Linked DNA regions of Homo sapiens: all the other regions are linked to region 3. The links come from fine-mapping of genetic effects on plasma protein levels. Region 3 holds a variant in brackets. A gene starts in each other region. All regions are shown on their reverse strands.

Region 1 (2,734 bases), not on the chromosome of region 3:
GTGGCAACTATTCTCCTCCAACAACTTCCTCTCTCTCCTGGTGCGCCGCAGACACGAGTCAAAGCCGAAGAGCCACCCCTGGCCGCGGACGCGCACGTCCGCGACCATCGAGTAAATTCACACCCTCCGCCCTGGCGTCCGTCGGGCCCTCCACCAGCAGCGCCAACCCTGGGGCAACAGGTCCCAGAGGGCACGGCGCCGCCAGCCTGCACCGCGAACCGGGTCGGGTGTGCTCGGGCATGCGTGAGCCGCTAAGATAGCCCGGCCCAGGGACCGAGCAGGTTCTGCCGGCCGCGACTAGTCCCCTGCGCGGTCCAGGTGGTCAGGGGAGGACCTAGATTTCTCGCTGCCAGGGAATCGTGCGGATGGCACAGGCCGCAGGACTCCTGCAGAGCAAGCAGGGGCCCCAGGTACGCTTGAGAAAGCGAACGCAGCAGTGGCCCCGAAACCTTGGCCTGAATGAGTAAAAGGAAAAGCCGTGTCTCGTCAGTTAAATCACCACCGCAGTTCCGCAAATCCTCCGCAACAGGCCCACGCGCCCCAAAAAACCAAGACACGAAACACCCTCACACTGCGCGGCCGCTACTCTGAGGGCGCCGGAGCCGGCGGCGAGACTTTCCAGCTGGGCGCACAGCCCGATACTACGAGCAGGTCCTCAGCTCCCGGGCCGGCGCCGAAAGGCACGCGCTGCCTCTCCTCCTGCCCGGACCTACGACCCTTCACCAGGCCCGCGCGCAGCATCCCGTCCCAAGCCGCACTTCGGCCAAGAGCCTGCAGGTTCCGCGTGAACGACTTTTCTTTAAAGAGAACCTGCCCGAGAGGGAACCCGATCCACACGGATCCCCACCTCCCGCCGGCGACAAGCGGCGCCGATGCAAGCGTCTCCGCTCGCACGTGCACGGGAAGCGGGCAGTAGGTGGTGCCGTTCGGGCTCCAGCGCTAGTCTTCCTTCGGTGCCAGGCCCGCGCCCCGGGATTTGGAGGTATTTACCTTGCGTTTCTCAGTCCGAGAGTCAGAGTCAGACATTTGGGGGAACAAGGGCCAAGAAAGGGCGCCGAGGCGGTGGCGGCGGGAACGCAGCGAACCGAATACCGCGATGATGCGATCGCAGTGTGGCAGGGTTCGCAGGGTGGCTGCAAGAATCAAGTGGTGGTAGTGGCGGCGGCGGCGGCGGCGGCGGCGGCGGCGGCGGCGGCGGCAGCGGCAGCGGCGCTGGACGCAGAGCTCCAACAAACTGCAGACCAGGCGGCTGCGCGGAGCGAAGTGAAACCTGCGCGGCCCTGCAGCCCAGCTCTGGCTGGCGGCCCCGCTCCTACGCCCAATCACTGCGGACCCCGCCCCCGCTAGGTCCCGCCCCGGCGCGCGGGCTGGCAAGCTCCGCCCCCCTCGGCGCCGCGGCCGCCGGCGCGTGCAGGCTCGGACAGGTAAAGGCGGGGGTTGCCCCGCTGGGTTGCCTCCCGCGCGCGCCGCCGTCCCTGGCGTGTTTACCGGAGTAACTCTGCCTGCTGGCGGCCATGTGCGCGCCCATCCCCCACCCCGAAGTGTACCCTAGCCTCCCGCTCACCTACCCCAACCCGGCGGCGGCCGCGGCGTGCGCGGCACAGAGGGGGCGCTCCGGTCACAGCCTCCGCTGGCCCGGCCGGCGGTGTGAAGCCTCGGGAGGCGCCCTGCGCTCTCACTGTGCCCTGAGTTTCTAAGCCGCTCTGGGGCAGGCGCGGGGACTGGGTTGGTCCTCGCGAAGGCGCGGGGCGAGGTCTTTGAGCTCTCCTCCCTCTGAGGGTCCCTGGCGCCGGGCGGGACGCGGATCAGCAGGCTGCGCATCTTCCTCGCCCGGGCCTCTCGCGGGACTCAGGCACCCTCCTCCTGCCACCCCGCAGGGGCTCTCCAGCTTTTCTTCCGCGCCCAGTCGCCCTAAGAGACAGAGGCCGTGGGGGCAGGACGCGCCCAGAAAACGGCCAGGCGCGGTCCCAGTGGGCGTCTTCGCCGCCTCCCGGGTGAGGGCGGGAGGCATGTGCAAAGCAGGTAAAATAGGGAAATGAAAAAAGCACTCAGAAAAAAAAATCCTTTTAGGAAAAAAAAAAACGAGGTGAATGGCGGCCTCCAAGTGAGAGAGAACGTTGCGCACTGCATTTGGCTAGGACCCCCAAGATTTGCTGGGCTCGCAGATAACCTCGTAGGAGCTCCCTCGACTGGCTGAGGCCAGTGAAGGCAGAACAGCTGAGTTCGGGCCGCGGTGCGGGAGCGCAAAATACCCCGTCCCTCCTCCCCTCCCGCCTCCCCACCCATCCCTTTCCTCCCTGGAGTCCGCAGCACCTCACTCTACCTCCCAGGAGACCAAACTCCATGCCGCCTCTCCAGTCCTCTGAGTCTGCACCCGGGTCTGCTCTCCCAACGCGTGGCTGGCGCCCCAACCCCGGCCCTCCTGTCTGCTCCTCCCGCGCCTCAGTTCCCCAGCCCCAGCTTCTAGACAACTGCAGCGGGGGTGTGGGAGGTGGATCGGGAAATGGAACATCCCGCAGGTGAGGTCAGGCTAGATGGATTAAGGAAACTCTGTAAAGGGACCACCCTACACACCACCGCAGCCGGCAGGGAGAAGGAAGGGGCCTTGCCGTAGAGGAGCAAGTGAGGAGGCGTTGTCCCGCCGTCCGGCCGCCTGGAGCAGTTTTTAAATTCATAAGCGCTTCTGTAACGTCAGTGGGACACAGCGCAGCCCCATGCCAAAGTCTCAGCGCAT
Region 2 (2,755 bases), not on the chromosome of region 3:
CCGCTCCGCGGAGCGTGGGAGAGGGCTCTCCCTGGAAACTCCACAGAGTTGGAGTCGGAAGAGATCAACGAGGTTTAAACTCGGAGGCATTGCACGATACAAAGGGGATTTGGAGCGCTAGGGGAGGTGACCCTAAAGAACGGGACTATCTGGGTGCAAAGTGACGGCAGATCAACTCACCTGCCTGGTGAAGAGGATGGCAGTGTCCCAGTACTCGGGGTGCTTGTCACTCACTTTGTTCAGCTTCTTCTGCCAGGCACAGAAGTTGCGCAGCGTCAGGGCCGCATTGCCGGTGACCTTGGGCCCGGAGTCACGATCTCTAAGAAGCAGCACCTTGACCACAACGATGTTGATGGGGTTGAGGATGCTGGGATGGCGGTAGAGTCGCGCCGCCGTTGCCAGCAGCGTCAGCAGATAATGTTCCAGGTCCGCGCCGTGGAACTTGACCATTGACTCGTCCGCGACCACCAGCGTCTCCACGTACCGCGGGATAGACACGAAACGCTTGGCGCGCCCAGACCTGCGCCGGCTACGACTCTCCCCGAAGCCCGCCCGCCGCGGCTTGTAAGGGTCCAGGGCCCGTAGGATGGCGGGGTTCCAGCCCGAGGCCACCCCGCAGCGAGAGGTGGGGTCTCCGGAAGGCCCGCCCGGAACACCCCGGCGCTGGAGAAGGTGTGCGCCCTGGCTGTTGCGCTGCGCCGCCGGCGCGCTAGCATTGGGCAGCGGGCTAATGACATACTCGGCGCCTCGGTAGCCAAAGGCTCCGCGGAGCCCCCCGCACAGGCTCACAGCAGCGAACGAGTCCGGCTCGGCGTTCACGTCCCCAGAATAGAAGCAGCGTCGCAGGTCTGAAGAGCCCCCGGTGAGCCCCTGGAGGGGGACGCCCAGATGCTCAGTGGAGAAGGCGGGAGCCAAGAACTGAGCATCCGGCGTCAGGTGTAGGTAAAAGTCCTCCTGAAATGCTGTGATCTGAAAAATGAGTCCCTGATCCCCGGAGTCCTCGGGACCCCGCCAGTAGTAGCGGCGGCCGTTAATGTCCGGGTCCAGTCGGATGGGAACGACTACCTCCCGCTCTGGCTCAGAGCCTCCAGCGGTTCGCCCGGCGAAAGCCAGGGTTAGGATGCCCAGCAGAAGCATGGCGCCGGGCAGCGCACCGCCGCGCTGTGGGAAGGGGCTGGGCCGGGCTCTCCGGCCGCTGCCGCGGTCTCCGTGCAGCCCGCACTCTGGAACCGCCAACGCTACGGGACAGCCGGCAGTTCCCAGAAAGGAGAGCCAAGGGAGGGAGACTCCTCCCAGGGCGGCGAGCGTGCACCCGGCAGCCCGCGCTTCCTACCTGTGCCTTTCCAAGCAAAGCGCGCCCTGGGAGCTTAAGTACAATCGCTGTCAAGTGCAAGGACGAAGATTTGCAGCCGAGAACTAGCGGAAGGTGCCGGGCGGCTTCTCGCAACCGCAGCCACTCGCAGCGCAGCAAGCCAGGCGCTGGGCGAGCCTATTAAAGGCCCCCTCCTCTTTGGACGGCCCAGTCAGCGCCCCTCCCCTCACTCCCCTCCCAGCCTCCCAGAGCTCGCTGCCGGAGCCTCCAGGGGCCACCGGAGAACTCGGTCCCGCCTCCAGAGCGGAGAGCCACTTGGCGGGGAGGGAGTGGCATTGAGCTGAGGCAGGAGGCGTGGGCTGGCCCGAGAAACCGGCGCTGAAGTCTCAGTTTGCGTTTTGCTCTTGGTTATGCCCCACTGTCCCGACGCCTCACTCGCTTCTGCCCCCGCGGACAGCGTTCACTCTCTGGGTCTTAGTCTTTTATCTCAGGGCAGATCAGGTCAGCAGCTAGGAATGAAGACCCTTCACTGACCCGTCCCCAGGCCCACCTCATCCCTGCTGTTGCAACATCCCTGCTGTTTCTTAATCACAGAGTCCCCTAAAAGACCCAGAATCAAGAACCACCCCCCCCCCCGCGTAAATGTCCTATTGCCAGAAGAGCAATAGGACAGGGGCATGGGAGCCCTCTGGAACCCAAGACCGCCTAGCCCCAAGGTCTGCCCTGGGCCCATGGTGTGCTGGATGGGCTGGGGCAAACTCTTCAGTTCTCAGGAATCTTGCCAGCCAGCTGTTAATCACGGACATTATTAAAAATTAAACTAAACACACTTACAATTAAACAAAGTGTATATATATATATGCACACACACACACATACATATATATACACATACATATATATATATACATACACACACACACACACACACACACATATATATATATATTTTTTTTTTTTTGAGACGGAGTTTTGCTCTTGTTGCCCAGGCTGGAGTGCAATGACGCGATCTCAGCTCACCGCAAACTCCGCCTTCCGGGTTCAAGCCATTCTCCTGTCTCAGCCTCCCAAGTAGCTGGAATTACAGGCATGCACCACCACGCCCAGCTAATTTTGTATTTTTAGTAAAGACAGGGTTTCTCCATGTTGGTCAGGCTGGTCTCGAACTACCGACCTCGGGTGATCCTCCTACCTTGGTTTCCTACCTCCTACCTTGGTCTCCTGAGTAACTGCGACCACAGACACACGACACCACGCTAGGCCAATTTGTGTGTGTGTGTGTGTGTGTGTGTGTGTGTGTGTGTGTGTGTGTGTATTTTTGGTAGAGACTGGGTTTCGCCGTGTTGCCCAGGCTGGTCTTGAACTCCTGAGCTCAAGCAATCCACCCACCTCGGCCTCCCGGTGCGGGGACTACAGGCGTGAGCCACCATGCCTAGCCACAAA
Region 3 (2,755 bases):
ACAAAAAACAACTAAACAAATAAATAAATATTCACCAAAACCCAGGATGAGGAAGGCCTTTCTTAGGTGAAAAGCAGAGGAAAGAAATCTGAAGGAAGGGGAAAATACTAAAACTTGACTAGAGAAAAATGAAAACTGCTTCTGAAAAATCACAATAAGCAAAGTAGAAAGGCAAGCTGGGAAAACTATGATATAGAATCAATGTCTGTATGAATATAAAGCCCAACACTAAAAATGGACAAAAGCCATGAGCAGGTATTTCAGAGAAGTTAAAACGGTCATTAAGCCTAAAAAAAAGTTTAACTTCATTAATAAACAAAAACATGCACATTAAAAAAGCAATGAGACATCATTGTTAGCCTTCCATGCAGGCAAAGATGAAAACAAAAATTGATGATACGTGGCATTGGCCAGGCATAGGAATCAAGCAGCCTCAGTCACTGCTGGTAGGAAGAGAATTCAAATTAAGATCCTCAACTGGTGTCTTTTTTCTTTTATTTTTTGAGACGGAGTCTCACTCTGTCACCCAGGCTGGAGTGCAGTGACACACACTGCAACCTCCGCCTCCTAAATTCAAGTGATTCTCCTGCCTCAGCGCCCCCAAGTAGCTGAGATTACGGGCAAGTGTCACCACACCTGGCTAATTTTTGTGTTTTTTGTAGAGATGAGGTTTCACCATGTTGGCTGGGCTGGTCCCAAACTCCTGACCTCAGGTGATCCGCCCGCCTCGGCCCCCCAAAGTGCTGGGATTACAGGCATGAGCTACCACGCCTGGCCTCAACTGGTGTCTTATACCCAGGTGATGTGAATGTAAATTGGCATCATTGCAAATATTTGGTGATTCTGGCAATTTGCATCAAGTCTTATATATCTACATATTATTTGACATTCCTAGGACTTTGTCAAAGGAAAAATTTCTGCATGTGCACACACAGATCTTGGAAGTTTATTCATCTCAGCAGAGGCAGACAGGAGCATCAACAGCCTTGGGGACAGCAGCAGTGGTGGTAGGGCAAAATAAAACTTATATGAAACTGTAATCACTAATGTGTGAAAATGGAAGATTCAGGAAGTGTTTCATATCTGAAATATGAACCCAACGTGGAATCAACATGCATCCAAACAGGACTAAATGTGCAAACCCAAGGCAAGAT[T/G]AAAACTATAAATATTTAGCAATTTGGCAAATTGGTCATTTTGGAGACTAGCTTTTAGCAAATTCATCATATGTTTAATTGATTTCCAGTAAATTGGCTGCTTCCATCAAGGCTGCCTTGGGTGACTATGTCCAAGCAACCAAATTGCTCTCTTTAAATGCAAAAATTAGTAAAGATTTATCTCTCTAAAGTAAGTTTGAAATTCTTGCAATATTCAGATTGACTTGGCAGCTATCTGATGGGTTACCTCTTTGTGTCCCCCTGACATCCTTAATGTAGACACATATGCATACTAGAATGTTGATTCATTAATCCACAGAGAAAACTGTAACTACTAAGAAGACTAGATATTCATGCTTGAGAATGAGTGGTTCTGTTTTTGATGGCAAACCTCTGACATACAATACATGGTGGCCTATTCCTACAACATTCAGAATAAAGAATAAGGGAGCTGGGTGCATTGGTGTGCGCCTGTAATCCCAGCTACTTGGGAGGTTGAGATGGGCACATTGCTTGCTCCCAGGAGTTCGAGTCCAGCCTGGGCATCATAGTGAGACCCCCATCTCTCTCTCTTTTTGTTTGCTCTGTTGCCCAAAGGGTCTTGTTCTATCACCTAGGCTAGAGTGCAGTGGCACGATCACAGCTCACTGCAGTCTCGACCTCCCAGTCTCAAGCAATCCTCCTACTTCAGCTTCCCAAAGTAGTTGGGACTACAAGCACATACCACCATACCCAGCTAATTTTTTAATTCTTTTTTTTTTTTATTATTTTTTGAGATGGAGTTTCACTCTTGTCACCCAGGCTGGAGTGCAATGGCATGATCTTTGCTCACTGCAACCTCCGCCTCCCGAGTTTAAGTGATTCTCCTGCCTCAGCCTCCCGAGTAGCTGGGATTATAGGCACCCACCACCACACCCAGCTGATTTTTGTATTTTTAGTAGAGATGGTTTTTCACCATGTTGGTCAGGCTGGTCTCGAACTCCTGACCTCAGGTGATCCACCTGCCTCGGCCTCCCAAAGTGCTGGGATTACAGGCATGAGCCACCACGCCTGGCCTTTAATTCTTTTTTTGTAGAGACAGGGTCTTGCTATGTTGCTCCAGCTGGTCTCGCTCCTGGGCTCAAGTGATCCTCCTGTCTCTGCCTCCCAAAGTACTGGGATCACAGGCATGAGCTACCATGTCTGGCCCGCGTCTCTCTTAAAAAACAACAACGAAAAAAGAATAAAATAATTTCACAAGAAAGCAGAAATATAAAGTGAGAAGTTAAAGCTGAAAAAAGCATGAATAGCATAGATTGGCGTCCCTTTCAAGTAAACCTAACGTGGTCATATGGCAATGAAATCAGAGAGAGAGGGTGGTTGTGTCTGGGATAGAAACAAGTGCTCAAGTAGCAGAGAGATCAAAGTATCAGTTTTGATTTACTTTAATCTAGTTTGTTTACTTTTTTTCAGTTACAAAAGTAATACAGAAAATTAGAAAGATTAAAGTAGTGTTATTCCATCACCTAAAAATCACCACTATGACTATGAGGCATTCGTTTTTTTGTTTGTTTCCAGGTGGAGTCTGACTCTGTCGCCCAGGCTGAAGTGCAGTGGCACAA

Which allele goes with the higher level. Alleles are on the strand shown, and positions count from the first base shown. The strength of an association depends on the size of the effect and on how common the allele is.
With allele G in place of T in region 3, the plasma level of the protein whose gene starts at base 1,265 in region 1 is lower (moderate association).
In carriers of allele T in region 3, the plasma level of the protein whose gene starts at base 1,466 in region 2 tends to be higher than with G alone (weak association).

Evidence for each region. PIP is the posterior inclusion probability: the model's chance that the variant is causal. The UK Biobank Pharma Proteomics Project read protein levels with antibody pairs (Olink). The fine-mapping took linkage between variants from a reference panel, not from the people measured, so its PIPs are less certain.
Region 1: it holds the start of BCL2L11, and the variant in region 3 is fine-mapped to the plasma level of the BCL2L11 protein (UK Biobank, PIP above 0.99).
Region 2: it holds the start of ADAMTS15, and the variant in region 3 is fine-mapped to the plasma level of the ADAMTS15 protein (UK Biobank, PIP above 0.99).

The regions. Positions count from the first base shown.
Region 1 is chr2:111,119,445-111,122,178 of GRCh38, reverse strand. BCL2L11 (BCL2 like 11) reads right to left here and starts at 1,265. Exons shown (of 4, transcript NM_138621.5): 1 at 991-1,265. RefSeq lists silencers at 533-827, 1,161-1,700 and enhancers at 711-830, 1,981-2,060.
Region 2 is chr11:130,447,356-130,450,110 of GRCh38, reverse strand. It overlaps ADAMTS15 (ADAM metallopeptidase with thrombospondin type 1 motif 15), which reads right to left and starts at 1,466. Exons shown (of 8, transcript NM_139055.4): 1 at 181-1,466. The coding sequence starts at 1,137.
Region 3 is chr3:186,734,791-186,737,545 of GRCh38, reverse strand. The region is part of intron 7 of KNG1 (kininogen 1); the gene reads right to left. Among named protein-coding and RNA genes, the nearest start is that of KNG1, 19 kb to the right of the region's middle. The variant T/G (reference allele first, on the strand shown) is at 1,155.